Homo sapiens: one gene and its partner. The gene in region 2 interacts genetically with the main gene of each other region. Each region holds a gene or a part of one and is shown on either strand. Other genes may lie near its edges.

Region 1 (7,392 bases), on a different chromosome or scaffold from region 2:
TACCTTTGTATCTCAAAACAAATCCTGTAGTTTATATAATTTGGAATATTGTATGTCTGTTTTCCATGGAAATGATGAAGTTCATTGGTCATGGTACTCTTGGGTCATGGGACTCACACTCACTTTGCTCTTACCTCTTTCTTATTTTCACATGCATCCCATCGACACTCATGTCTAATCCAGAAGACTGGTAGTATATAAGATCCCAAATATTACCACTGGCTCAGAATCTGAGCCAATGAATGGAGAGACTATGTCATACTTGAAATAAACTTCTTTAACAATAAAAATTAAGAGTATAAGTTCTCTCATTTCATCTCAGTTTCATCAAATATTTCATGTTTAAAATGCTAGCAAGTGTGAAAGAGGCTATGGAATTTTGTGAGTGATAAAATATTTGTAGAGTACTTGGGGATCTGGATCTGGGTGCTATTAAAACCAACCAAACACAAGTAGCTCATATGAGTCCTTCAATTTTTATTCTTGCTTCCAACTTTTAATCTTCCAGCACTGCCAAAACATGGAACTAGGCAGATTTATAGCAATTCTGGTAGATGTTTGTTAGGAACTGATTTCGTACAACACTCTTGGCAATAAAACTATAGTTTTCTAAACTTGACATTTAGCATGTCCTTTATCTTATAAGAAGAAAAATACTTCTGTTGTTCTGTTGGAGTAGGTTAGCTTATAAAAATAAAGTGATGCATCTTTATATGTTTTTAACGTGTCCAACTTTGCCAGGCATGGTGGTTCATGCCTCTAATCCCAAGCACATTGGTAGGCCGAGGCAAGAGGATCTCTTGAGCCTAGGAGTTCAAGACTGCAGTGTGCTATGATGGCATCATTGCACTCCAGCCTCAGCGACAGAGACTCTGTCTCTTAAGTTAGTAAGTAAATAAATAAAATGTTCAACTTAAAATAAAATTACAATTTCTTTTCTAGCAGCTAGGTGAAATTTCTTAACTATTAACCTCTGGTACTTTAAACAACATTAAAACAGCCTTTAAAAGAAGACATTAATTAATTGAGGAAAGATTTTAAAATAATTTTTTCCAAGTTTTAATTTTTAAATCCCTAAAGAACCACATATTCTTGTACCATCCAGGTTTATAAAAATGCAGCTATCAAATTTGATATTAAAAACAAGATACCGCACACCCTTTGTGGAATAAAGCACAGTATAAAGAAAATTAGAATGTCATGACCATTCTTCTTCAATCTTTCCCATTTGTAATATTTCCCCCAAGCGGAAAAGCCTGACAAATTTCCCTTTCTTGCACGTGACCACTTTTTGCATCAGATGCATTTAATTTTGTAGGTTAAATATTCAGGACAAAAGGAGAGTAGAAAGAATTTTTAGAGCTTTGATTTCTATGGAAGCAATAAGCTGAAACTTGGAAATAATATGTTTCATTGCCATCAATCCCATTGTAGCTAGCTAACACTCCAGGGATTTCCTTGATTCTCTCTATAATAATCTTATACTTCTATAGTGCTTATAATTTGCAACCTGTGTTCACTTACTTTATGAGATTCTTACAAAAATCTTTTGAAAGAAGGCTAGTGTGTATGTATATGTGGGTGTATGAATATACATATATATGTGTATATGTTTGTCTATACATATACATATGTGTGTGTATGACATATATATGTATATAGTCATCCCTCATTGTCCACAGGGGATCGGTTCCAGAACCCCCTCAGACACCAAAATTTCCAGATGCTTAAGTTTTTTATATAAAATGACTAATTGGTCAATTCTTCTTGGTAAAGTTGATCTTGATCTTACCAGTTTCTTTTTTGGCTTAGTAATAGGAACAATGATTTTCATAATTTAGGGGACCAAAAGTAAAATTTCAGTTTAAGTCATTTTAGGAATAAACCATGGAGCTATAAATCTTTTGGAGGAGTTATAGATTCAGTGTTAATGCTAGAGTATTGCAGTATATTAATACAACAGATAGTTCTGAAAAGTTGCTTTAGAAAAATGTTTCAGCTAAAGTGACCCAATACCAAATTCTGTACAGTTACCCTCTATTTTGTAAATGCATATGTTAATATCAAAGTATTTATATTGTGTAATTTCCTACCTTAGGTGCTTTTGTTTTTAATATAATGCTGTTTCAAGGTCGAATATGTACAGTAATAACTGTTACAAATTGATTACGAGAGATCACAATCATTGTACAAATCACAGGCTATGTCATTGTGTAGACAAAAATCACTGACCATGCATGCCAGAGGTGGATCATAAATAGTAACTCCTAAGACTAGAAATCTACTTGATATTTTTATGGGTTCATCTTTAAAAGTGACCTCGCTGAATAAAAGTTCAATATTTCTTAAAAGAAAGGTAAATCTAAAAACCGTCCAGAATTTTCGATCCTAGTCTAGTACCACTTACTTGGGAACAAATATAGAAGCACAGGCAACCCCGTCCGTTAATTTGGCTCCGTCATTGTGCAGACAAAAATCACTGACCATGCATGCCAGAGGTGGATCATAGTTAACTCGTTAAGACTAGAAATCTACTTGATAGTGATTTTTATGGGTTCATCTTTAAAAGTGACCTCGCTGAATAAAAGTTCAATATTTCTTAAAAGAAAGGTAAATCTAGAAAGCTGTCCAGAATTTTCAATCCTAGTCTAGTACCACTTACTTGGGAACAAATATAGAAACACAGGCAACCCCGTCCGTTAATTCTGATGTTGAACGTGTGGTTAGAGAGCACACTGCGATATGTTACAGGACCTGAGATAAAAAGCAAATTTGTAAAGTGTCTAAGTGTTGATGGAGAAAAACACATCTAGCATATACGGAAATTTTCTTTTGAGTTCTCTGTAGGATGATCACCAACTCAGTAGGTGAAGCCCTGCCCTCTAGTGGTTATGGGTGTGAGAGGACTTCTGTTCAACATTATATGTCTGGCTCACCACGGTTTATTAAAACCAATCGTTCATTAAAAAGCACTTATTAGGGGTCTGGGTAAGATGCCGAGCAAGTGAAATGTTTACGTGTGAAAAGGCATTGACACTGGACAAAGGTACAGCTGCTAAAAGAAGTGCTCGTTCATTGGCTTCGACAGCTGTACGACTGGTTTCTAATTGCTGTTCCAGCCTCTCCCCAGTTCCATATACCACAAACGAATGAAAAAGATTAGCTCTCCCTGGAGCTCTCTGAGGCTGAACCTTGCTCTCTCATTACACATGGTAACTAAGCACACCCCTTAAAGAATTTTGGGAAGTCGCCCCGCGATTACCGGCTCCCCCAAGAACCAAGCAGTCAGTGCAGGGTTTTGCAAGTGAGAGTGCGAGACTCGGGAGGCTGCTCACGGTGCTCCAGTCCCTGGCAGGAGCATGGACACCTCGCCCCTTCCTTCCGTGGGCCTCAACGTTGCCTGCTGAGATTGTGACTGCCACCCCGACGGGAGCAGCTTCCCCTACAGACTTTGTAGAGAGCGCTTAAACGCCTCGGGGACAGCGGCCATGACTCTCAGCTTGGGCCGACCCCGCGGCCGCCCCACGGGAATGCGTGGCCGACACGGGGCGTGGGCGAATCTCCGACCCTCGCGTTCAGGGGGTGCATATAAACGGGCGGACACCGTCCCTGGGGTAAGGGAGGCGCCAGCAAGAACAAGGCGGGCCACCAACCCCGAGCGACCTCCTACCGGACGGATCCAAACCCAAACATTGTCCATTCCGGGCCGAAGTCTCGGCCTTCACTTCACTTCCGCCTTCCCAGCCCGTGAACACGAATGCGCCTGCGCGCACCTCTCTCAGCGGAAGTAATAGTGACAAAGCTGGGTTCGCGGCTGGCCCAGGAGTGCGGGGCGCGACTGGGCGGCCGGCGGCGGGGAGGGGCGGAGCGCAGGAGTCGGAGGCGGGAGCAGACCAGCACGGCCTCGCGGAGCCGGCCCGGCGGACCGTGACGGGTCCCCTCACCTCCTCTTCTCTCCCCTCCCCGCCCGCCCTCTCTCCCTCCCTTCCTCCCTCCCGCTCGCTTCTTCTCACGCCGGGAGCAGGCTCCCGCCTCGCACCGCTGCCCCGCGAGCAGCTCCTCTTCTCCCGAGGCGCGCGGGGCGCCCCCGCGAGCCCCGCGGCTGAGACCCCGCAGCCTGGAGGAGGGCTGTCCGGGGCTTTGGGTGGGTACCAGTATTACCTCCTGCCCCCATTTCTAGAAACTTCCAGGTTCTGAAGGAAGGGGAGGTTCGGGTATCCCCTGGATGGGGGGGCATCTCTAGGGCGCCGCCCCGCTGGCGTGAGCTGGGGACGTTGCGGGCACACGACGGGGCGGGTGCGGGATCTTGGGGAGGGGGGCTCCCGAGATAGTGGCTGGGCGGGGAACTCCTTCCTCAGCCTCTCGTCAGCGCCGCTTCTCCTGGTTTCTCTTGCAGATGCTGCTGCTAGGGGTGGTGGGAGCAGCCGTGGGACGCGTGGCCGGGAGCGGGGGTGACAGCCTGGGATTCCGGGGGCTTCTCTTCCTTGTCCTCCTCCTCTCCTCTCTATTCCCAGTGTGGCCGTGGCTGACACTAAAGACTTTGTAGCCATCAACCCGAGTGCAGTTTCGATGGAAAATGAAGGTAAAGGCCCCTGGCCGACCGGTTGCAACGCGGAGTTGAGGGTGTGGTGGTTTGCTTTTAAGTTGTCTTTGTTTTTCCACCTTTTTATTTTCGTGAGCTTATTTATTTACTGTGTATGTGAAGTGTCCAAGGATTTGCTTACTTAGGGTATCCAGCTTTTATTTTGGTAACATGGGGCATTTGAGAGATTGAGGTTCTGTGGGTGACTGAGCTTGATTCAGCTTTCTTGAGGAATTCCTGCTCTCTTCAGCTTAGGGAATGAGAGGGAAGTTTTCATTTCAGATAGCGTCTGTGCATGTTTAAATAGCTATTTGAAAGGAATTACTCGAGGGGAAGTGGAAATGGGGGACAAGGGGATGGGGCTGCATCTCTGTATATTGGCGTTTCAAGCCTCGATGTGGTGTGTGGCAGGATTCATTTATAAGAAAGCAAGCCATGTTTTATTATGTCTAGCATTGGGGAAAAAACTCATTATTTTTCAATTCACAAAAAAAACCCAGTGAATTTAATGAAATGTTATGAGATGAGTGCTTTTCTTAAAGTTCCACCCTATTTCAAAACATCATTTAGGAGGCTGACAGCGGAACCTGTTTGTTCACTGTACACTTTGGACACATTAGATCGTCATTCACATGTTACATGATCCCTTTGGCCTCGTTAAAATATTTAATGCTTTTCCTACACAGCACTGATTATTTTTAAAATTGTTGAACAACTGTGAATAAGTGATTTTTTTTCCCCCTCCTGAAACAACACTTATTCTTTGGACTGACTTCTGACTTGTGCGTGATCATTTTTTTTTCTTCTGCCTTTAACCGGGCTGCAAAATACTATAAAAGATACTTAACAAATGACAGTTTTTTCCTCTGGTATAATTTGTTTTAAAAAATATGTGTCTGGTATAAAGGAGCTGCAGTCTTGCTGGCTGCTTCTAATTTGTTTTTCCATTGTTGAGAATGTAAGCTTGATTGTCTGACTAGGACTAGTAATTTTGAAATGGGTGTTTCTTATAGATGCAGTAATGTGTTTTGCTCTCTGAGACCTCTGGGCTATGTAGGGAATATGATGAGAGGCATGATTATATTGACAAATTTTACTCTGGATGGATAATTGGCGGAAGACATTTTCTGAAATACTAAAGTGTATAACTGCAGAGGAGTTATACTGTCTAATTGGGTCTTGAGAAACATTTGAAAGCAGTGATGTTTTTGGTGATAAGGAAAGTCACTTTTCTGAGCCTTTTTCCTCTCTTTTAAGTTTATTGATTTAAGAAAGGCAAATCCATTCTGCACATGAGACAAAGAATGTTAAATGCATTCATATACTTGTTTCTTGGTAGAAACATCTTAAATAACTTCTAACATTTAATGTATGTTTATGAGCTTGTTTTCAGAATGGTACCAGATTTAAGAGGGTAGCCTAAAGTAGGTGGATTCTTTCATGTTGCTTTTGTTTCTTGATCTCTCAGGAGGAAGAGCATGAGTAATAAAGCCGATTCTCATTATCTACTGAGGTGGGAGGGGGTGGTTGTGAGATAGGAGAATGGTGCCTACTTGTGTCTGTCTCTGTATTTTGTGGCCAAATATGAATTTTGTGGTTTCATAGTAAAAGATTATACAGTTCTTAAAAACGTGTGGGGTTTTCTGTCCCGTTATTCTTGACCATCAAGAGACCATTTTTGTCAGTTTCTCCCTATCGTCACATTTTTTTTTATATATAAACAGTTTGAAGAAGAGCCTGTATATAGCCTAGAAATTTTCAAAAGTGACTGACCATATTAAACTACATAGATTGATACCTGTGCCTTTTTATTGTTCACTTGCCTTTTTGTAGTTTTCATCCTTCTTTGATATAGTGTAGTATTAACAATTTGGAGGTGTGAAACAAAAATGGATTCAAGTCTTGACTAACTTGTCTTGAACCACTTAAAGCTGTGTGATTTTAAGTAAATTACGTCACCTTTCTGAGCCTGTATTTCTTCATCTATAAATTGGGATTGATAATCTTTAACTCACAGAATTGAGAGGATTAAATGAGAAACCCTGTATAAATTCTCTTGTGAGGTAGGAATGATAACGTTTAAGAGCTTGAGTTGTGGTGGAACCATGCAGACTGATTTGAATGCTGGATTCGTCGCTTACCATTTGGCTTTGTGCATATTAAAGTTTTCTGTGCTTCCGTTTCTTCATAAAATAAAGATAATGATAGAACCTACCTTATGAGGTTGTTGTAAACATTCAAACAGTATCTGGCACATAGTAAGTGCTCGGTAAATGTTAATTATAAATTGCCTAGCTGAATGTTTGATACATACTAATAGGCCACCTGGCATTAATATTGTCATGACAGTTAAATGTTGGAAGGGGGAACAGTAGTAGCCAAATGCTCAAAATGAAGTTGTCATTGTTAGTTGAGGGATAAGTGGAGTTAGGTAAGGAATTTTCTATGGCATTAGTGCTTTTAAGCCTACAGAAAAAGTTAGGGCTCTACCAAGAAGCCAGGGTCCAGTACAGAAAGAGACAGGTTTGGATTTGAAGCCCGACAAGTAATGTTTTCCTCTCCTGAAAAATCTGACAAGTTACTAGGCTTCTAAGCTTTCTCAGCCTCTAAGTTATCTCATCTGTAAATGAGATAATGCCCTCTTGCAAAGTTGATGTGAGTAATAAATGAAGCCGCCAGAGCAATGTTTGACATACAGTTAACTTGGATGAATTGAGTGATGCTGCTGTTCCCTAGTAAGAGTATCCTCCAGTAGGTATGCAGGTAGTTACATTTGTGGGTGTGAACAGTGTAGAATTGATAGTGTTTCC
Region 2 (8,004 bases):
GATGATAGGGCTATTTTTTATTTATTTATTTATTTATTTTTTTTTAGAGACTGAGTCTTGCTCTATCACTCAGGCTGGAGTGCAGTGGCATGATCATAGCTCACTGAGACCTGGAACTCCTGGGCTCAAGTGATCCTTCCACCTCAGCCTCCTGAGTAGCTGGGACCATAGGCTCATGCCACCATGCCCAGCTAAATTTTTTGTTTTTTGTAGAGACAGGGTCTGGTTGTGTTGCCCAGGCTGATCTTGAACTCCTGGGCTCAAGCTATCTTTCCACCTTAGCCTCCCAGTGTACTGATATTATAGGTATGTGTGCCTGCCCATCCTTTTACCTTGTATTTATTTTTTAAATTTTTATTTATTTATCTTTTTATTTATTTTGAGACAGACTCTTGCTCTGTCACCCAGGCCGGAGTGCAGTGGCATGATCCCGACTCACTTAAACCTCCATCTCCCAGGCTCAGGCGATTTTCCTGCCTCAGCCTCCCAAGTAGCTGAGACTACAGGCACATGCCATCACGCCTGGATACTTATTGTATGTTTTGGTAGAGATAGAGTTTTACCATGTTGGCCAGGCTGGTCTCAAACTCCTGACCTCAAATGATCGCCCGCCTTGGCCTCCCAAAGTGCTGCGATTACAGGCGTGAGCTACCACGCCTGGCCCCTGGCCCATCATTTTACAATTTTTAAACATTTTATAGAAATAATTTTAAGTTTACAAAGCAGCAAAAATAAAATAGTATGAAGAACACTTATATAACTTTTGCCTAGATTCACCTGTTGTTAACATTTTATCCCATTTGTTTTAGCATTTGTACTCTTATCTAAATAAAATTGTAAATGTGTATATATACACGTTGTTTACATACCTGTCTATAGTGTGTACATATACATACATTATTTATAAGCTATATAATGCACACATATAATCACAACATTTAATATATATTATGTATTGATACAGTACTTGAATCTGTCATCCATATTTTAATTTTGGATGACCTAATGTCCTTTCTTGTTTTTTGAAAGGACATAGGCTGGGCGCGGTGGCTCACGCCTGTGATCCCAGCACTTTGGGAGGCTGAGGCAGGCGGATCACGAGGTCAGGAGATCGAGGCCATCCTGGCTAACACGGTGAAACCCCGTCTCTACTAAAAAAATCCAAAAAACTAGCCAGGCTTGGTGGCGGGCATCTGTAGTCCTAGCTACTTGGGAGACTGAGGCAGGAGAATGGCGTCAACCCGGGAGGCAGAGCTTGTAGTGAGCCGAGATTGTGCCACTGCACTCCAGCCTGGGCGACAGAGTGAGACTCCGTCTCAAAAAAAAAAAAAAGGACATGAAATTTTTAAATATTTCACTTGTGTTATCAGTTTTATGTAATTTAAGTGGGTTTAACAGTCTTTATATTATTTTGCCTCAACTGTTAAATCATATGTGTTTATTTCTACATCTTCTCTTTTATAGCTTTATTTAGTTTTATAGATTTAACCACTTTTTTTTTATACTTTATGTTCTGGGATACATGTGCAGAACGTGCAGGTTTGTTACACAGGTATACATGTGCCATGGTGATTTGTTGCACTCATCAACCCGTCATCTAGGTTTTAAGCCCTGCATGCACTAGGTATTGGTCCTAATGCTCTCCCTCCCCTTGCCCCTGACCCCTCAATAATGTCCTTTATATCAGTGTTTTTCCCTTCGGTCTAGGTCAGATATTGCATTTAGTTATTTATTATCTTTTTAGTCTTTTAATCTGAAATATATCCATAGCCTTTTTTTAAAATGTTTTCTGACATCAACCTTTTTGGGAGAATTACAGTGTATCCCTCCTCCCTCCACCCCAGGAATGGGCTGTTCCCCATTTTTTGTTTGTCTGATGTTTCCTGATGGTTAGATTGAGGTAGGCATTCCTGACTAGAAAACTGCATAGGTGATACTTTGTCTCTCCAAGAATGTCTCATCTGGAAGCACATGGTGTCCATTTATTCCTCATTGGTGACATTAATTTTGGTGACCCAGTCAATATTTCTTTTCTGTGTTGTCTTCCCTTGCAACTACTATCTAATCTGTAGGGATATACTTAAAGACAGTACAAATACCCTCTTCCTCATCAAAATTTCTCCAAAGATTTTGCATCAATTGATGATTCTTGCATAATTAGATCTTTCATTGATGCTTGCAAAATGATGCTTTTAATTCTAATACTTCTTGCATATTCACCAGTGAGCCTTGGTATTCTACTGCCAGCAAGAGCTCTCCTTCCTTTCCCATTTGTTTGTCTTTTTACTAGCAGTACAAACTTATGGATTCCTTTTTTCAATGGTTTATAATTAATTATTTAACTATTTTGCTGCTTAAATTATCCGATGTTAGGCCAGTGAGAGCCTCTCCAAACTGTGTCCTGTGTCTTTGTGGCATGCTCCCATTTGATTTTGCTCCTCACTTTCTAGTACAACAAGATATTACAGGTTCATCATGCACCTGCTCTGCCCAGTCCTGGAACTGGCCATTTCTCGGCGGAGCTTTGAGGAGCTTTTTAGGGGAGAATGGTATTAGAACCCAAGATCTAGGTGCAAGGTTACTGAGCTCCTTGTTACTGAGATGTCTTTGCCTCTTGTCTTTTTCAGTGGACAGAGCTAGAAAATATATGCTTGTATCCTGTGTGTACACATACATATATACAAATATACATCCATACATATATACACACACAATAATTTAAATACAGATGTGCACACAAACATAGGTTTGCTGCATTTCTAACCATGATTTTAAGATCTTTTCAGTTTTGTAATGTAGGGAATTATTTACATACAGGTTATACATTTACAGGCAGATTTGTAAGTGTTGCACCCGTTTTATAAAAAGAGCTGGTGAATTAAAGAGTAATTGTATTTTTCTTTCTTTCTTTTTTTTTTTCTGAGATGGGATCTCACTCTGTTGCCCAAGCTGGGATGCAGTGGCATGATCGCAGCTCACTGCAGCTTTGACCTCCTGGGCTCAAGTGATCCTCCTATCTCAGCCCCTCAAGTAGGCTGGGACCAAGGCGTGTGTCACCCCGTCAGGCTAATTTTTGTATTTTTTTTGTAGAGACAGGATTTCGCCATGTTGACCAGTGGTCTCAAGCTCCTGGGCTCAAGTAATCCGCCCGACTCGGTCTCCCAAAGTGCTGGGATTACAGGCATGAGCCACCGTGCCTGGCCAGAGTAATTGTATTTATTATATGTATGGTCGTGTCCTCTGTTCCTTACATAGTTGTTTTTGTTTGTTTATGAGACAGGGTGTCACTATGTTTCCCAGGCTGGTTTTGAACTTCTAGGCTCAAGCAATCCTTCCACCGTGGCCTCCCAGAGTGCTGGGATTATGCCACTTTGCCCAGCCAAATTTTTAAGTTTTAATTACTGAATGAGTATTACTGATATACTTGTGTTTCACCATTAGGATTTGAGTTCTTGATATAGTTCCAAGCATCATTTTTTATATAACTTACACAGATGTCTTTCCTTATCAGTGGGAAAGAGTGGAACTGAATGTTTGAGCCTGTTGTAACATTATTTTAATATAATAAGAAATTTTTAGATTTTTTTCATAAAACGTACTTATTTTAAATAGTTACAAGGGAGCAGAGTTTAAATCTTGCTATGTGAGACTTTTGTCATGATTCTTCACTAGAAGTTTGTGATTTAAAGATTTGTGATGAAGAAATTCCACTATGCAAGTGGCATGGCTTCCCAGTTATAAAATCTCAGCTCTTGAGAGGGCCTCAGAGCTAACTTCTACCCCAGGTACTGTGCCTTGCACAACATAAGGCAAGCCAGCCTCTGACTGAACATGCCTGGAAAGGAGTTCAATATCTTACTTAACATCTCTCAGGAAGATGTGCCATCTTCAACTGGACCATTGGCTTCTGAGTAAGCTGTGTTAGGCCTGGGCTAGACCTAATGGTTTATTATTGGTGGAGAGAAAGATCTGGAAATACTTGAGGTTATTACATACTAGATTAGCTTCTAATGTGAACCATTTTTCTTTTAACAGTGATAAATTATTATTTCCGAAGTTAACTGTTCCCTTGGTCGTGATACACACTCGATTAACAAACATACTGTTGTATTTTTTCCAGTTTTGTTTGGCTATGCCACCACAGTCATCCCCAGGGTCTATACATACTATGTTTCAACTGTATTATTTGCCATTTTTGGCATTAGAATGCTTCGGGAAGGCTTAAAGATGAGCCCTGATGAGGGTCAAGAGGAACTGGAAGAAGTTCAAGCTGAATTAAAGAAGAAAGATGAAGAAGTAAGCCATGGCACTGTTGATCTGGACCAAAAAGGCACTCAACTAGGAATAAACACTCTACAGAGGTTTCTCAGTGGCCCCATCTGTGTGATATGCGGGGCTACACAAAAATAGCTTCTTTTGCTTTGTTCTGTTCTTATACCTGTCTGTGATCTGACTTGGGGTTGGTGTGAATGTAGTAGAGAAAGGAAGCTGACAGATGAATACTGAACACAGGTAATCAGTTTCCTTAATTAGGTTGATTATAAGCTCCTGAAAAGCAGGAACTGTATTTTATAATTTTACCTGTTTCTCCCGTGGTGTCTAGGATAGTAAGTGAGCAGAGCAGTAAATACTGTTTGGTTTGTTCAGCTGAGGAGAAACGGAAGAATTGAGACTATAGCATTTGTTGCTGTGTGAGACCAGTGGTTCAGAGGGGAGGTTTGGGGGTCACATAAATGTAGTTTTTTTGGAGCATATTTCATAGAATTTAAACACTTAGAAAAGTCAAGTGATTTGTGTGCTATTTTGATTTGCTTCCTGTGCTTACTTTCATTTGTTTATTATTTATTTTAGTTTCAACGAACCAAACTTTTAAATGGACCGGGAGATGTTGAAACGGGTACAAGCATAACAGTACCTCAGAAAAAGTGGTTGCATTTTATTTCACCCATTTTTGTTCAAGCTCTTACATTAACATTCTTAGCAGAATGGGGTGATCGCTCTCAACTAACTACAATTGTATTGGCAGCTAGAGAGGTGAGTGATATTTGAGAGGAGACTGTTTAAAATGAAACGTAATTATTATTACTTTGTTCCAGAAAACACTGGACACACTGAAGTGGGCCACAGCATTCCTTCATATGCAAGACTGTTTTACATCTGATAATTCAGCTGCTCTCTAAAATTGGCCTTCTCCCAGTTCCTGCTACCTGCAGGTGAAATTCTTGTAACCAAGCTCAGTTGGGCTCTTTTTACTCATCCTTTTCCCTTTGGTTTTGCCAAAATGATGCCGTGGTACTTGTCATCTTAGCTTGGTTTTCTTATCATAGAACTTTCTTTTTTATAGTTGTTGAGAATATAAATCAGTATAATATTATTGAAGGCCATTTTGGTGTTTAATACCTAAAGCCTTAAAAATGTGTAGCTAGCCGGGCTTGGTGGTATGCACCTGTAGTCCCAGCTACTCAGGAGGGTTGAGGTGGGAGGATTGCTTGAGCCTGGGAGGTTGAGGCTCCAGTGAGCTGTGTTCGCGCCACTGCACTCCAGCCTTGGTGACAGGGAGACCCAGTCTGAAAAAAAAAAAAAAGTGTATAGCTTTTCGTTCATGTGTTACACTAAAGAAATTGACTGTTGCACAGACTACTTATAATTATTGTAACTTAGTAAAAATTTAGAAACAGCCTAATAATCCAGCAGAAAATTGGTTCAGCTGTTTACAAATCTCTGTGTAGCTCTTAGAATATTCACTCTTCAACATCATTTCAGTGACATGGAAAAATTTTAAAAGGAGGTTTACTTTTAAAATATAAAAAGAAGGCCGGGTGCCGTCCCTCACGCCTGTAATCCCAGCACTTTAGGAGGCCAAGGTGGGCGGATCACCTGAGGTCAGGAGTTTGAGACCAGCCTGACCAGCATGGAGAAACCCCTACTACTAAAAATACAAAAATTAGCCGGGCAAGGTGGCTCATGCCTGTAATCTTAGCTACTCAGGAGACTGAGGCAGGAGAATTGATTGAACCGGGGAGGCAGAGGTTGCAGTGAGCCTAGATTGCACCACTGCACTCCAGCCTGGGCAGCAGAGTGAGATGCTATCTCAAAAAATTAAATAAATAATATATAAAAAGAACAAAAAAGACTTAAGGAAATAAAAACATTATTTTTATTTCAGTGCTTATCTATCGTTGCGTACTGCTATTATGGGTAATTTATTTATTTACTTTTTGGTAGGGGTGGGGTCTCACCATGTTGTCCAGCCAGTTTTGAACCCCTGGCCTGAAACTTCCTGCCTCAGCCTCGCAAATAATCCTTCTGGGATTATAGGCGAGAGTCACTGCTCTGGCCTAGGTGACTTGTTTGTTTCTGTGTAGGAACTTTTTGTTCAAAAAGTCTTAGCCCAAGAATCCTAAGTTCTGGAGTGGGAAGCTAGAGACCTCAGCTCATCTTGTAGCTTTTACTCTTCAGATGAAGAACCTGACCCCCAGAGAGATCGGGTGACTTGTGTGAGGGAGTAAGCTGGCTGGCTGTGGCCTTCTTCACAGTTGTTCAATGCCACTTATTTAAAACATGCCCATTGGTTTTTTATTTTTTAATTTTTCTTTTGATGGGAATAGCAAGGTTTTATATGAGGCGCCTGTCATTGTTCACACAGATTTATTAAGATTTCATGTGGAGACGGTTGTGGAATGGAATACTGCTGCCACTTTTCAACCTCTTTTTCATCTTAACTGATACTATTTCTTATCTGTGTTTATATCAGATTCTCTTTTTATAAGAGTAAAATTGTTTCTAATTCCTTGGAACTATCATAAAAGAACAAGTTCTTTAATTATAGGCTGTGGTTTAAAATACAAGACAGTTGAAGGCCAGGACTAAGATAGATGGGAAAGGCTATTTTGTCAGGGAAGCCTCAAAAATGCTGTATTTTGGGGAAAAAAAATGGAACTCTGATTTTCATTTGATTCTCATAAAACAAACTTTCTTTAAAAATATCACTTTAATTAGCTGGGCGTGGTAGCGGGTGCCTGTAATCCTAGCTGCTAGAGAGGCTGAGGCAGGAGAATCACTTGAAACCGGGAGGCAGAGGTTGCAGTGAGCCGAGATGGTGCCACTGCTCTCCAGCCTAGGTGACAGAGTGAGACACTATCTTAAGAAAAAAAAATATATATATATATACATATATATTTATTTATTTATTTATTTTATTTATTTATTTAATGGCTGTACCCTATATTCTTCTTGATTTCTAGCCTTTTATTGGCTCTCAGATTGCCAGAGTTGGGACTCAATAGTAAGTAACCATTTTGTTGAGGTGGTAGTGATTCTACCAGGGTGAGTTATCATGACAGCAGAATCACTGCGTTTTTCTCTCTACTCTGTGGCATAGACTCTATGCCATAGAGTGACGTGTGAAAGGCTTGAGGCTCCCTACCTACGAGACACCCTGGTCCATTCTAGCAGTATGGCACGTGCTGACTGGGTTTTGAGTCTCTTGCTGTAAAATCACATTACTGCACTTCCCTGCATTTTCTCATCCAAAAATGGGGATTACCTGCTTTGTGGATCGGTTTGCAGATGAAATAACACACGCAGGGTATCTAGCATGGTCCCCCACATGGCACATTCAGTGTTAGCCACACTTCCATACTAACTGCCCTGCGGGGATATTTAATGAGCTCTTAAATGGCAGAAATGTTGTGTCTTTTCCTGTTCCCTTAGTATTCCTATTTTTGTTGGTAATTTTTCTTATGAACCATGCAGTTGTCTAGTTCAGGCCATTTTAGTATGCAGTTTTATCTTTGCTTCCAACATGATTTAATGTTCCCAAATTGGATTTCACATAATCCTAGTGTCCTTTGAGACTTGAATTGGTTCTAGGCCAAAAAAGGGTGAGGGGGAAGGAAGAAATTCAGAGTCAAATTTGGCAAATAATATATCCCTGTCGTTTTGTTTTTTCTTTTTAAGACTTGGGCCAGGTGTGGTGGCTCACGCGTTTAATCCCAGCACTTT

Evidence for each region.
Region 1: changes in TMEM165 (region 2) and ATP2C1 are lethal when combined (synthetic lethality), as found in Homo sapiens cells (one study listed by BioGRID).

Annotation. Positions count from the first base shown.
Region 1 is NC_000003.12:130,890,194-130,897,585, forward strand, and holds the start of ATP2C1 (calcium-transporting ATPase type 2C member 1), read left to right. Parts: upstream 1-3,890; 5' UTR 3,891-4,144; intron 4,145-4,356; exon of another isoform or gene 4,357-4,396; 5' UTR 4,397-4,576; coding exon 4,577-4,582; intron 4,583-7,392. UniProt on the Homo sapiens protein: ATP-driven pump that supplies the Golgi apparatus with Ca(2+) and Mn(2+) ions, both essential cofactors for processing and trafficking of newly synthesized proteins in the secretory pathway.
Region 2 is NC_000004.12:55,412,952-55,420,955, forward strand, and holds part of TMEM165 (putative divalent cation/proton antiporter TMEM165 precursor), read left to right. Parts: intron 1-4,120; coding exon 4,121-4,296; intron 4,297-4,851; coding exon 4,852-5,034; intron 5,035-8,004. UniProt on the Homo sapiens protein: Putative divalent cation:proton antiporter that exchanges calcium or manganese ions for protons across the Golgi membrane.